Homo sapiens: one gene and its partners. The protein of the gene in region 1 purifies or fractionates together with the protein of each later gene. This does not show direct contact. Each region holds a gene or a part of one and is shown on either strand. Other genes may lie near its edges. The genes, in order: AMFR, INSIG1 and FAF2.

Evidence for each region.
Region 2: the proteins of AMFR (region 1) and INSIG1 purify together in Homo sapiens (affinity purification with western blotting; 6 studies listed by BioGRID and IntAct, with this or other methods). This does not show direct contact.
Region 3: the proteins of AMFR (region 1) and FAF2 purify together in Homo sapiens (affinity purification with western blotting; 9 studies listed by BioGRID and IntAct, with this or other methods). This does not show direct contact.

The regions. Positions count from the first base shown.
Region 1 is NC_000016.10:56,411,946-56,415,545, forward strand, and holds part of AMFR (E3 ubiquitin-protein ligase AMFR), read right to left. Parts: intron 2,400-3,600; coding exon 2,307-2,399; intron 1-2,306. UniProt on the Homo sapiens protein: E3 ubiquitin-protein ligase that mediates the polyubiquitination of lysine and cysteine residues on target proteins, such as CD3D, CYP3A4, CFTR, INSIG1, SOAT2/ACAT2 and APOB for proteasomal degradation.
Region 2 is NC_000007.14:155,295,774-155,299,596, reverse strand, and holds the start of INSIG1 (insulin-induced gene 1 protein), read right to left. Parts: upstream 1,720-3,823; 5' UTR 1,638-1,719; exon of another isoform or gene 1,570-1,637; intron 1,447-1,569; exon of another isoform or gene 1,339-1,446; 5' UTR 1,312-1,338; coding exon 900-1,311; exon of another isoform or gene 617-899; intron 1-616. UniProt on the Homo sapiens protein: Oxysterol-binding protein that mediates feedback control of cholesterol synthesis by controlling both endoplasmic reticulum to Golgi transport of SCAP and degradation of HMGCR.
Region 3 is NC_000005.10:176,486,245-176,490,067, reverse strand, and holds part of FAF2 (FAS-associated factor 2), read right to left. Parts: intron 3,714-3,823; coding exon 3,579-3,713; intron 1,118-3,578; coding exon 1,041-1,117; intron 1-1,040. UniProt on the Homo sapiens protein: Plays an important role in endoplasmic reticulum-associated degradation (ERAD) that mediates ubiquitin-dependent degradation of misfolded endoplasmic reticulum proteins.

The DNA of each region.
Region 1 (3,600 bases):
CATCCCTGTGCTTTAGTTTCCTCATCCATACAATAGGTCTTATAATAACAGCATATACCTCATAGAATTGTTGGGGGAATTATACATAATATATGTGAAATGGTTAGACAAGTGCCATACTAGGCACTAAGCACTTAAAAACGCATCAAAAAGCTTCCTTGCTCTAAACCTCCACTTAACATTTTAATCATTTTAGATATTCGATGTCTTTGCCTCTAGCATTACTCTATTTCTAGAACTTTAAGCACCCAAGAGCAAACCCATGTCAATCCTAGAGATTTCTAACTCAAAATGGTTCCTAATTGATGCTACTGGATGACATTAAACATAAATAAACCAACACAGAACAGCAGGGAAGATGCGATCGATGCTGAAAAAAATTAAAGTGGAGCTGGATAAGAAATATGCTCATTATAATTACCTCTGGATCTAGTTAAAAAATCTCTAAAATACTCCAAGGTTATACTTTCTATAAATTTCAACCTGATAGAAGTAACCTTTTAGGGAAAAGAAAGTATATAAAGCCCACTGGTGCCAGATCAATCCACCAAGCCTGCCTGGCCTGACCAATTTCTGGTCCACAAATAAAAAATTTGAAGAGAAACTTGAAGAAGTATCAAAAGAAGCATTTAAGCCAGTAGAAGTGGCTCACACCTATAATTCCAGCACTTTGGGAGGCTGAGGCGGGCGGACTGCTTGAACTCAACAGTTTGAGACCAACCTGGGCAGCATGGTGAAATTCCGTCTCTACAAACACCTAAACAATTAGCCAGGTGTGACACATGCCTGTAGTCTCAGGTACTCAGGAGGCTGAGATGGGAGGAGACTGCTTGAGCCCAGGAGGTTGAGACTGCAGTGAGTGGAGATCGCACCACTGCACTCCAGCCTGGGTGACAGAGCAAGACGCTGTCTCAAAAGAAAAAAAAAAAAAGGCAGCATTTACAACCTATCTGGGAGACCTCTAGAGTCGATACTGGAGAAAGTGCTGAAAATGAAAAATCTCTGAGAATACAAAATAGTCCTGTTCACAATGGCATCCAAGGGCTCAACCACCAAGTAATACATGTCAGCTCTAAACTAGGACTTCAGCTGATTTTATAAAAGGAAATTTGGGTTGAAAAGGGTAGGTAAGGAGAGAATGGAACACTCTGAACATAAAGTAAAGCTGCTGTTGTGCTTTTCATATAGTAGGTTCCTGTGTTTTATCACTGGGATAAGATAGAATAAAACACAATTTTGTTCTTATGTTGTGATTTTGAAGGCCAGTTCTAAATTTTTACTTTAAAACATACCATGCCAGGCACAGTGGCTCACGCCTGTAATCCCAGCACTTTGGGAGGCCAAGGCAGGCGGATCACCTGAGGTCAGGAGTTTGAGACCAGCCCGGCCAACGTGGCGAAATCCTGTCTCTACTAAAAATATATAAATTAGCTGTGGTGCACACCTGTATTCCCAGCTACTTGGGAGGTTGAAGCAGGACAAGTGCTTGAACCCGGGAGGCAGAGGTTGCAGTGAGCTGAGATTGCGCCACTGCACTGCAGCCTGGGTGACAGAGCAAGACTCCGACTCAAAAAAAAAAAAAAAAATTATTCTACACCCTACCCACTCAAATCCTCAGCGAACTGCCAATCTATACAGTATGCTTGTGGCGTAATTCTTCATTGAAAGCATCCCCTGCCCATTCTGAGTCACTTTCCAATGTCAGACAATCTCACCCAAAACAAGAACAAATCTCCTAATTTTATGCTTTTAGAACAATGATTCTTAATTCACCTTCCCACAGAGAAAATTATCTTGGTAAATTCTTTTGGAAAAGAACCCACATTCTACAGAGTGACATTTATGATCATTCAAAATAAAACAAATCTAGGCTTCTTTAAAAACGACATTCCTAAAAGTCATGAAGAAAAACAGCTATAAAAAACAATATTGGGACAACTTGGCTACACTGAATATGGACTGTGGATTAGACAAAGTATTTTTTCAATGTTAAATTTCCTAATTTTAATCACTGTGCTGTAAAAATGCCTTTGCTCTTAGAAAATACAAACTGAAGTATTTAGGGGTAAAGGGGTAATGATGTCCACAACTTACTCTCAAATGAATCAGAAAAAAAAGTATGTATAAATAAAAAGTGAAGATTAAAGCAAATGGAACAAAATATTAACAACTGGCGAATCTGGATAAAGGGTATATAGGAGTTTTCTGTAGTATTCATGGAACTTTTCCACACATCTGAAATCATAATACAAAGTTTAAAAAAAAAAATCTAGTCACAAGAATCCATCCTTTCAGTGTAGACTTACCTGTCTCTCACTCACTCGAAGAGGGCCAAACACAATACACTGGATGAGCTTAGCCACCAACATCAAAACACAGCAAGCGGTATTTACTAGAACCTGTAAACAAATCAGAGAAAGGAAGTTTATTTCTTCCTGCTGAAAAATAAAAGCAGCTCTAAAAATCTCATATTAGGAATTCAGCCATCATTTCCAGTGACTGAGCCTTTCTGGTTCTCTCCCAATGCAAGATAAGGAATATCTGAAAAGGCACACTGTTCTGGGGAGTGGGTGTTAGGGATGAGGACCGGAAAGAGAGGCACCAGCTCACCAGCTAAGTCACAGTTCTTGTCCCAATACGCACCCTCCAGCAGGCCACCTTATCTTTCATCCTTAACTGAATTGTGTGTATACTTTGTACTGTATGTGCAAAACTACATTAACCTCGTAAACTGCAGGTCCTTCCCAAGTACCTCATTTCCGACATTATTTTGACAGCCTTGAAGAAAACTGTTCTAGAAATTGAAGTTACCGTGAATAGTAAAACCCAGCACCCAGAGATTCTGCCCTGCCAAACAAATAGGAGGTAGGGGTAGGAGTGTGGATGGTCACAAAAAAGTCTCATCATAAGGAACTAATAATATAAATATATATATACAGAGAGAATATTTTAATATTTATTGGAATGGAAAAATCTTTCAACCAAAAGATAAATGTTCTCCATGCTTGGTGTTGGCTTTGAAGTAAAGGTTTTGTGGCACTGCAGCAGGGTGGAATGGGTTAAACAGAAGGAAAAGAAAACCGGCGAGAGGGGCCAAGAGATGAAAGGCAACCTGGGGATACCAATGCAAAACCAAGGCCTTCTTCAACAGTCTATGAGAAAACTTGAAAAACAAAACAAAACAAAACAAAACTCTAAATGATGAATATCCTTACACCTAAACGCCAAATCTTAATGCTTACAAAATGGAAGAGTTGGCTGTCCCCAACCCAGAGATTAGTGTGGGGTATCACATTACTCTGAATGACTCCAAAAAGCCAAAAGGACCTTGATAAAAACAGTACAGATGACTTGTTGAGAGCAAATGAAAAGGAACTCCAATTCAATGTAAAGCTGCTTCTGCCTCTGATTCACTACGTTTACCATATTACCCTTGCCAAGTCATTCTTCCCTCTACTTTTAAAAGCAAATGATAATTTTAAAGAAGAAAGAAAGGGGATAGAGGAGAGTAATTTAAGAAAGCAAGATCCCTGAGATCACCTCAGGGTCTGTTTAGTACCTCATGCCATCCCTCCTTTGGGAGAACACTTAAGGGCAGCC
Region 2 (3,823 bases), on another chromosome or scaffold:
TTAAGGATAGGGGCTTGTGGTGCTCACTTTTGGATTAACATTTCAACAGCTTATAGAGTTGAGGTTGCAGAAAGCACCCGACAAGCTCGTTAAATAAACAAATGCTGTGTGACTACAGGAGCAGTAAGTGATCTGCTGAGCCAAGATCAACTCAACATTTCTATAAAAGCGGTTCAATGATAGCCAAGAAAGTCTAGTACACACACCCAGCAGTCCCCGTGTCCACAGTTCAGACTGACTCAGTGTTACGTTGTACAGCATCTATGCTACTGCTTGGGTGTACGAAAATCTAAACGCCGTAAGGGGGTTACTCTTTTCCTTAAGAACGTAATCTACAGAGCTCTAACAGTTCAGGGTGTAGGCGGTTTGGCTTCAGACCACAGTTTACTCAGCGACCCGGCAAAAGGAAGTGCTGAGAAGTTGCTCCCCTGGCAACCGCCTCCTGAACCCATGTGACGGGTTTGTTTTCAGTTATCCAGCAGGGTAGCATGTTTGCTGCCGCGACCAATGGCCTTTCAGTCCCGCTGCTCACCAGTTCCCCAGGCGGCCAATCCGGGGCGGCTGGCGCGGGATGACAGCTGGGGCTGTACCCGGACGCCAGGAGGGAAGGGCCCTCAGTCAGCTTGGCACAGCACCTGCTTGAACAGCCAATTATCTCCCTGCCTCATCTCCATCACTGTGCTTCCTCAAACTTCAGAGAGCTGTGGCCCGAACCCGCCCTCGGGGGTGCCAGGTCCTCTCTACCCCTCCTTCATTTCTCTAAATCCCAAGACTGGAGATGCACACTTTCAATCTGTGGATAGTTCCAGTTTCAAATGCATGTTTCTTATAGGCTGAAAAGTACTTTCAACCGAAAAGACACCCTTTTTACTTCCAGAAGAACCAGGAGGGGTACTCACCAGCTGCTGTCCCGCAGCAGGGAGGGACCCACCAGGCGGAGGAAAAGATGGTGGCGATCACCTCCTCGGGGAAGAGAGTGACATTCCTCTGGATCTGCAGCAGGTTGAGCACCAGGGCTAGGACCACCCCAACCGAGAAGAGCACGAGGCTCCTCTGCAACAGGCGATGATGCCAGGTGTTGGGGTAGGGGCTGCCGGGCTCGGGGCCGCTCATCGCAGCACTGCGGCCCCTGGGCGCGGGGTCAGCGTCCGGGGCACCGTGGGCCGCCAGCAGGGAGGGCCCGGACACGGAAACGTTGATCATCTCCCCAACCTTGGCCGCCAGCCCCGCGGCGCTGGCTCGCGGGGGGCCTCGGCGCCTCGCGCTGTGCGCACAGGAGCAGCTCCAGAAGTGGTCGTGCAATCTGGGCATCGGTCACACGCGTCCAAGAGGCGCTTCCTGGAAGAAGGGGGTCATCAAGTTCACTCAGAAGAGACAAAGAGCGAGGAAGGCCCCGCGGGACGCGAACCCCGGCACCCGGGCCAGGCGGCAGCGCCGCCCCCCAAGGTTAGACCCCCGTGCGCCCGCCCGGGGCCAGCGGCGGACGGGACCCGCGCTCACAGCGAGCAGCATCCCCGGCCCCAGCGGGACCCGCGTCCCAAAGACCCAACAGGGCCCGCGCCCGCCTACCTCCGGGGAGGACCGGCTGCTGCGCGACCAAAGCCCGCCCGCGACCCCTATCCCAGCCGGCCGCGTACCTGGCCGAGAGGCGCCCGCCCGCCGGCTCTCCGAACGGAGGCGGGGCGGGGGAAAGGAGGAGTCACGGCCCGGGACGGCCGCAGCGCCTGGCGGGCGCGCGGGTTTATATGGCGGGCCGCGGGGCCCGCATCACGTGAGCCTGCCCGGCCTACCCACCGCCCGCGCGCACCGCCCAGGGGCGTGGCCTGAGCTTGCCCCGCCCCGCCCGCGAGCCCGTCCGCACGCGGTCTGGTGAGGCGGCCGCAACCAATGGGAGGCCGGCGGCCCATATGACGTGCGCACACGCCACCGCCGGCCCGCGCGCACTCGGGCGGGAGCCTCGGCACGGACTGCGGGGCGCGTGGCGGCTGCGGGGCACGCGGGCCCGAGCGGGACTGGCCGGCTGCGAGTGGGCGGCCGCGGAGCTGGGGCCTGGGAGGGGACGGTCCTGCCGGGAGGAGGCGGAGGCAGGACAGGGTGGGGTTGCGGGCCCGGCGCCGCCCCTCCCGGCTCCTGGCTCCCCTCGCCTGGTGTCCCGCGCCTGGCCGGGAGGCGGCGGGTCTCGATCGCGCGGGCCTCCCTGGAGGGGCGCGGGCTCTGGCGGCGGGGAGGCCCCTGCTCAGCGCAATGGCGGGCTTGCATCCTTGGGTGATTTTTTCGGGCCCCTTGTGGCCTTTGCTCACGCCTAGAGAGCAAACCACCCGCACCACCCAGGAGCAGATAAAATCGAGACCACAGCCTCCAAGGGAGCGCGCCTCCATCCTGTTTGCCCCTCGGGTCGCCGTCTGAGGGCGGGCCCGTGCCCGCTCAGAGCCTACATCCGAGTCGTATAAAGCGCTGACAGCAGAGAAAGCTGCGGCTTTGCTCCGTGCAGATGAGCAGGGGCTGAGGGAGGACGCTGTGCTCTCAGTAGCCGCGCTTGGCCCGGGGACCCTGCAGGCTTAGAAACGTGAGTCACGCCTGCAGCGTGGCGAGGAAACGCCGTTGATGTGGCATCCTCAGCCTGGGGTTGTGGCTTTAAGCCAGAAGGTCAAAAAAAGAAGTCTTCCTGAGCTGAGACTGCCCTGAGTCGCTTTAGGGGCGAAATTCCGAGCATCCGGTTGCATTTCCTGAGGATGACACGCGTGGTGGGTGTGGACGGCCTACAGGGGTCCATCCTCAGCGGCCCCTCTGCAGGGCAGTCTCGCTCTCACTCTCCCAGCTGACTCCTCTCAAGCCTGTTAACCATTGTACACGTTCCCAAGGACTCCAAGCAGGTTGGACTTCAGGGAACATTGCAGTTTGGGTCTTGGCCATTGTTTACACTCCACCTTGCATAAGTGCTTGAGGATCACACAACCAGATACGTAGATCATCCGTAGATCATCGCAGTCACATCGAAGATTTGTTTATAATAGGAAAAAAAAAAGCTACCCACTGTCATGCGCTGGGAAACTAGTGAGCTGAAGGATGACCCATCTGTAAATGGGGTGCTCCCTAATGGACAGGGCACCTTTCAGAAGCCTGTGCTGTGTCTCCTCGACCCCACTGTGAGCTCCCCGTCCCGCACGCTGATCTAAATCAAGCTGCTAACCTCATGGAGAGGCGTCCGCACGGGAGCCCCGGCCCTGAGATGCGGGGCAGTCACCCATTCAATTAGGAAACACCAGCAAGTGCCAGAAGCTTCTCATTAGCAGGTCAGCTTTCAATAACTGGTTTATCCAGGTGTGTGAGACCCGATAAGCAGAAGGGAAAGCTCTTAGCGACCTATCCAGCTGCTCTGCACTGGGCTCCTGACATCCCAGAAATCAGTACATCTGTCTTCTGGGGTCCAAGAGGTATTTCAGTTTCTCTGGCTTTGTTTCCCGTCATTTGTACCTGGCCCTGCAGACTACCCCAGTATTTCCATCATAATACCCCTGTGGGCAGGTGCATACCTCATGACAATATTTAATATTAATAGATTTATGTGTTGTCTCCAGAATGGAAAGGGGCTGTCTATTCCTTGAGCTAGTTGGCTTGCTAAAGACTATTGACTTCATTCTTCTTTTCCTATCTACCTAATAAACCAGTGTTCATACAACCCAGCCTCTCTGACTCTGTCCCTCCTCTCATCTGTACTGGGACATTATGAACCATGGAAGATCCTGGAGTCATAGAGGCACCCTGTGGCTCTGTGGCTGTTGCACTTACACCGACCAAGATGTCCCGTGGGAATGTGGGAAGG
Region 3 (3,823 bases), on another chromosome or scaffold:
AGTGCTGGGATTACAGGCGTGAGCCACAGAGCCCGGCCAGTTGAGCCCCACTCATTTTCTGGCCTTGGACCCTCTGTAGCTTCCAATGATGAGCTCTTTTAATGGTACATGAAGGAAGCTAGAAGAAAGGTGAAGGTATGAAGCAAGTGGGTATATACATAAAAGGGTTCCAGTGTTTGCAACCTAGGGGCTGCCAGAGCAAAGTGAAAAGGTACCGAAGCTGCCAGGCATGGTGGCTCATGCCAGCAATCCCAGCACTTCGGGAGGCCAAGGCAGGTGGATCACTTGAGGCCGGGAGCTCAAGATCAGCCTGGCCAACAAAATGAGACTCCATCTCTACTGTCTCTACTAAAAATACAAAAATTAGCCAGGCGTGGTGGCGCATGCTTGTAATCCCAGCTATCTGGGAGGCTGAGGTATGAGAATCGCTTGAACCCAGGAGGTGAAGGTTGCAGTGAGTCGAGATGGTGGCACTGCACTCTAGCCTGGGTGACAGCGACAGAGCAAGACTCTGTTTCAAAAAAAGAAAGAAAAAGAAAGAAAAGGTGTAACAGGAGTGTCTAGGGAGGTCCAACTATTGTGGGAGGAATCAAGGGCAAACTGGGTAATCTCAGAGCAAGAGAATTTGTTGGGATTGTGAGTAGTCAGGTGGAGGAGAAGTAGTTGAGGAAGAAAGTTCTAAGGAGTGTGAAGCTAGGAGATGATAGTGGTTAGAAAGGAAAGGGTGTGGACATCAACTAGGAAGTGTAGAGGTGACAAATATGGTGGGGGGGGGAGGGGGAGACAAATAAATATAGTCAGACTGGTTTTTGCAAACAAAAGGTAAGACTAATTTAAAAACAATTCCATTTCACAATGCCTGCCAATGCTTCAACAATTTAAAATACTTGTATGTTGTATTAAAAGACAGTTCGGGAAGTGTATTCCATCTCATGACAAATTGGTAAGTCAACATTGATAGAGCATAAAGCTTATTTTGGCCTAAATTTCAGCTCCAAAGTCTTACTATTCTACTAATACATAAATCCAAAGGTACATACCTAAATATATCAAGTATCGTGTAATAGGTAAACCGGAATGGAAGCATTATCAAGTAATAACCCCATCCAAGCAGCCCCTGAAAGTCCAAAAACAAAGTTAGAGACAATTCTCTCAATCCCTAATATTTTATCAAATGGCTAGGTCAGATTTTCTCACTCTTTTTGGTCCTTCCATGTGATTTGTTCCTCTAAAGTACAGTTCCTTCTTCCTGGCCACCTCATCCTTCTAAGTGCCACCATCTTTGGTCTTATTTCATCTTACTATCATTTTTTTTTGCAGAATTTTTGTATTAAATCTGCTTTAAGGTCCAGAGCTGTATCTCCTGCCTGTAATCCCAGCACTTTGGGAGGCTGAGTGGGGCAGATCACCTGAGGTCAGGAGTTTGAGACCAGCCTGGCCAACACGGTGAAATCCCATCTCTACTAAAAATACAAAAATTAGCCAGGCATGGTGGCATGCACCTGTAGTCCCAGCTACTCAGGGAGGCTGAGGCAGGAAAATTGCTTAAACCCAGGAGGCGGAGGTTGCAGTGAGCTGAGATCGCGCCACTGAACTCCAGCCTGGGGGCAGAGCAAGATTCTGTCTCAAAAAAACAAACAAACAAATAAAAACCAAAACTGCCTTAATACTTATTTTTGGCAGCTACTTATAGACTTGTCAAATTCAATTGCAAATTAATGTTCCCCAAATGATACACACTCATTCTTTCCTTTTTAGATTTACACATCAAAATATGGTATACAGAAATAAGCCAGGCTTGGTGGCTCACGCCTGTAATCCCAACACTTTGGGAGGCTGAGGCGGATGGATCACCTGGGGTCAGGAGTTCGAGACCAGCCTGGTCAACATGGTAAAACCCTGTCTCTACTAAAAATACAAAAATTAGCTGGGTGTGGTGGCTCACACTTGTACTCCCAGCAATTTGGGAAGCCAAGGCAGGCAGATCACTTGAGGTCAGGAGTTTGAGACCAGCCTGGCCAACATGGTGAAACCCTGTCTCTACTAAAAATACAAAAATTAGCCAGACGCGGTGGTGGGCGCCTGTAATCCCAGCTACTCAGGAGGCTGAGGCAGGAGAATCGCTTGAACCTGGGAAGCTGAGGTTGCAGTGAGCTGAGATCACACCACTGCACTCCAGCCTGGGCAACAGAGGGAGATTCTGTCCCAAAACAAAACAAACAAACATAAAAACCTAAAATAATGTATATAGAAATAGCAAGAAAGATAATCACTATTACTAACCTTGGACATTGGTATATAAACATTAAATAATTATATTAACCACAATGACAAATCCCCATATAGCTGCTTATCTTAGTAATAATGCTAATTATTATTGCTGTTATTAATTATTAAAACTAGCATACATCCAGGGCTCTATAGTTTATAAAGCATTTCATAGTTGTCACATTGTGTTAACCTGAGACACTTTCTGTGTCTGTGGCCAGGAAGCTCTGGAGCCCCATGGCTGACATGGGAATCTGCTACTGTACTTCAGAAAACCACAGAGCACTACTTAGAAACATGTTTTAAAACATCAAGTAGGCCAGGCACAGTGCCTCAAGCCTGTAATTCCAGCACTTTGGGAGGCTGAGGTGGGCAGATAACTTGAGCTCAGGAGTTCAAGACCAGCCTGGGCAACATAGCAAGACCCCATCTCTACAAAAAATACAAAAATTAACCAGGATGGTGGCGCACACCTGTAGTCCCAGCTACTTAGGAGGCTGAGGTGGAGGACTGCTTGAGCCCGGGAGGTCTAGGCTGCAGCGAGCCAAGATCATGCCACTGCACTCCAGGCTGGGCGACAGAGTGAGACCCTGTCTCAAACAGAACAAAACACAACAAAAATCAAGTACTCCACAAAAAGGCTTGATGATGGAGTAAATTCTAACTGCTGCAATGTTAAAGGGAGTGTTTTCTTAGGATTCTAAATGCAAGTATAAAAGTATAAGAGGTGAGTATAACCCCAGGGGTAAGAAAAAGAAAGTCCAAGCAGTTCTTTAGAATTCATTATCAGTGTACACATCTGACTTCCTTCAATAGACTGTGAGAAATTGAATTTGAAATGGGAAGACTGGCTCTTTATTCATGTCTGGATCCCTAGTAGCAAGATACCAGGTTATTGGAGTACTCTTAAATGTCTGTCAAATTTAAGTGAACCACCTCCTTGCTACTAGCCCTTCAAGGCTAATTTCAAAGACGTGGCCAAAGCTCCTACAAAGATTCCATATACTTCCTCAAAACTGGTTTAAGATTAAGTAAACTGAAGCAACAAAGAACTTGAGTAAACAAATTGTAACTTAAGAGGCAGAAAACACTCTCCAAATAACTGGCAAAGAAAAGAAAAAAAAAATGAGTAGTTTCTGTAACAATTCCTTGAGGAATCAAGGCAAAATAATACACCCAACGGGCCAAGTCTAACTAACAGGTTTACATTCTAAATATTTGTTTTGCTCCTGTCACAGGGAGATCAATATAACCAAGTGGATATACTTATAAATAAAAAAGGGGGAAATCCCAGCTATGAAATAACTTGCCCTTGGTTGAGGTCTTGAGACAACATAGCTGTAGATCCTGTGGTCAGCTGTATTAACCTGCAGGGGTCGTGATGGAGGTGGGTTGAAAACACTAGGTACGCCCTCTTGCTCATTCAATCTGTCCTGTACAGCAGCCTGAGAAGGAAAACGGAGTGGCAAGAGTTTCAGCGATGCTCAAATCAACCAACAACAAGAGGTGAGGCAACTATTGCGTGGTATTCCAAAACAGGATGGTCATGAATACA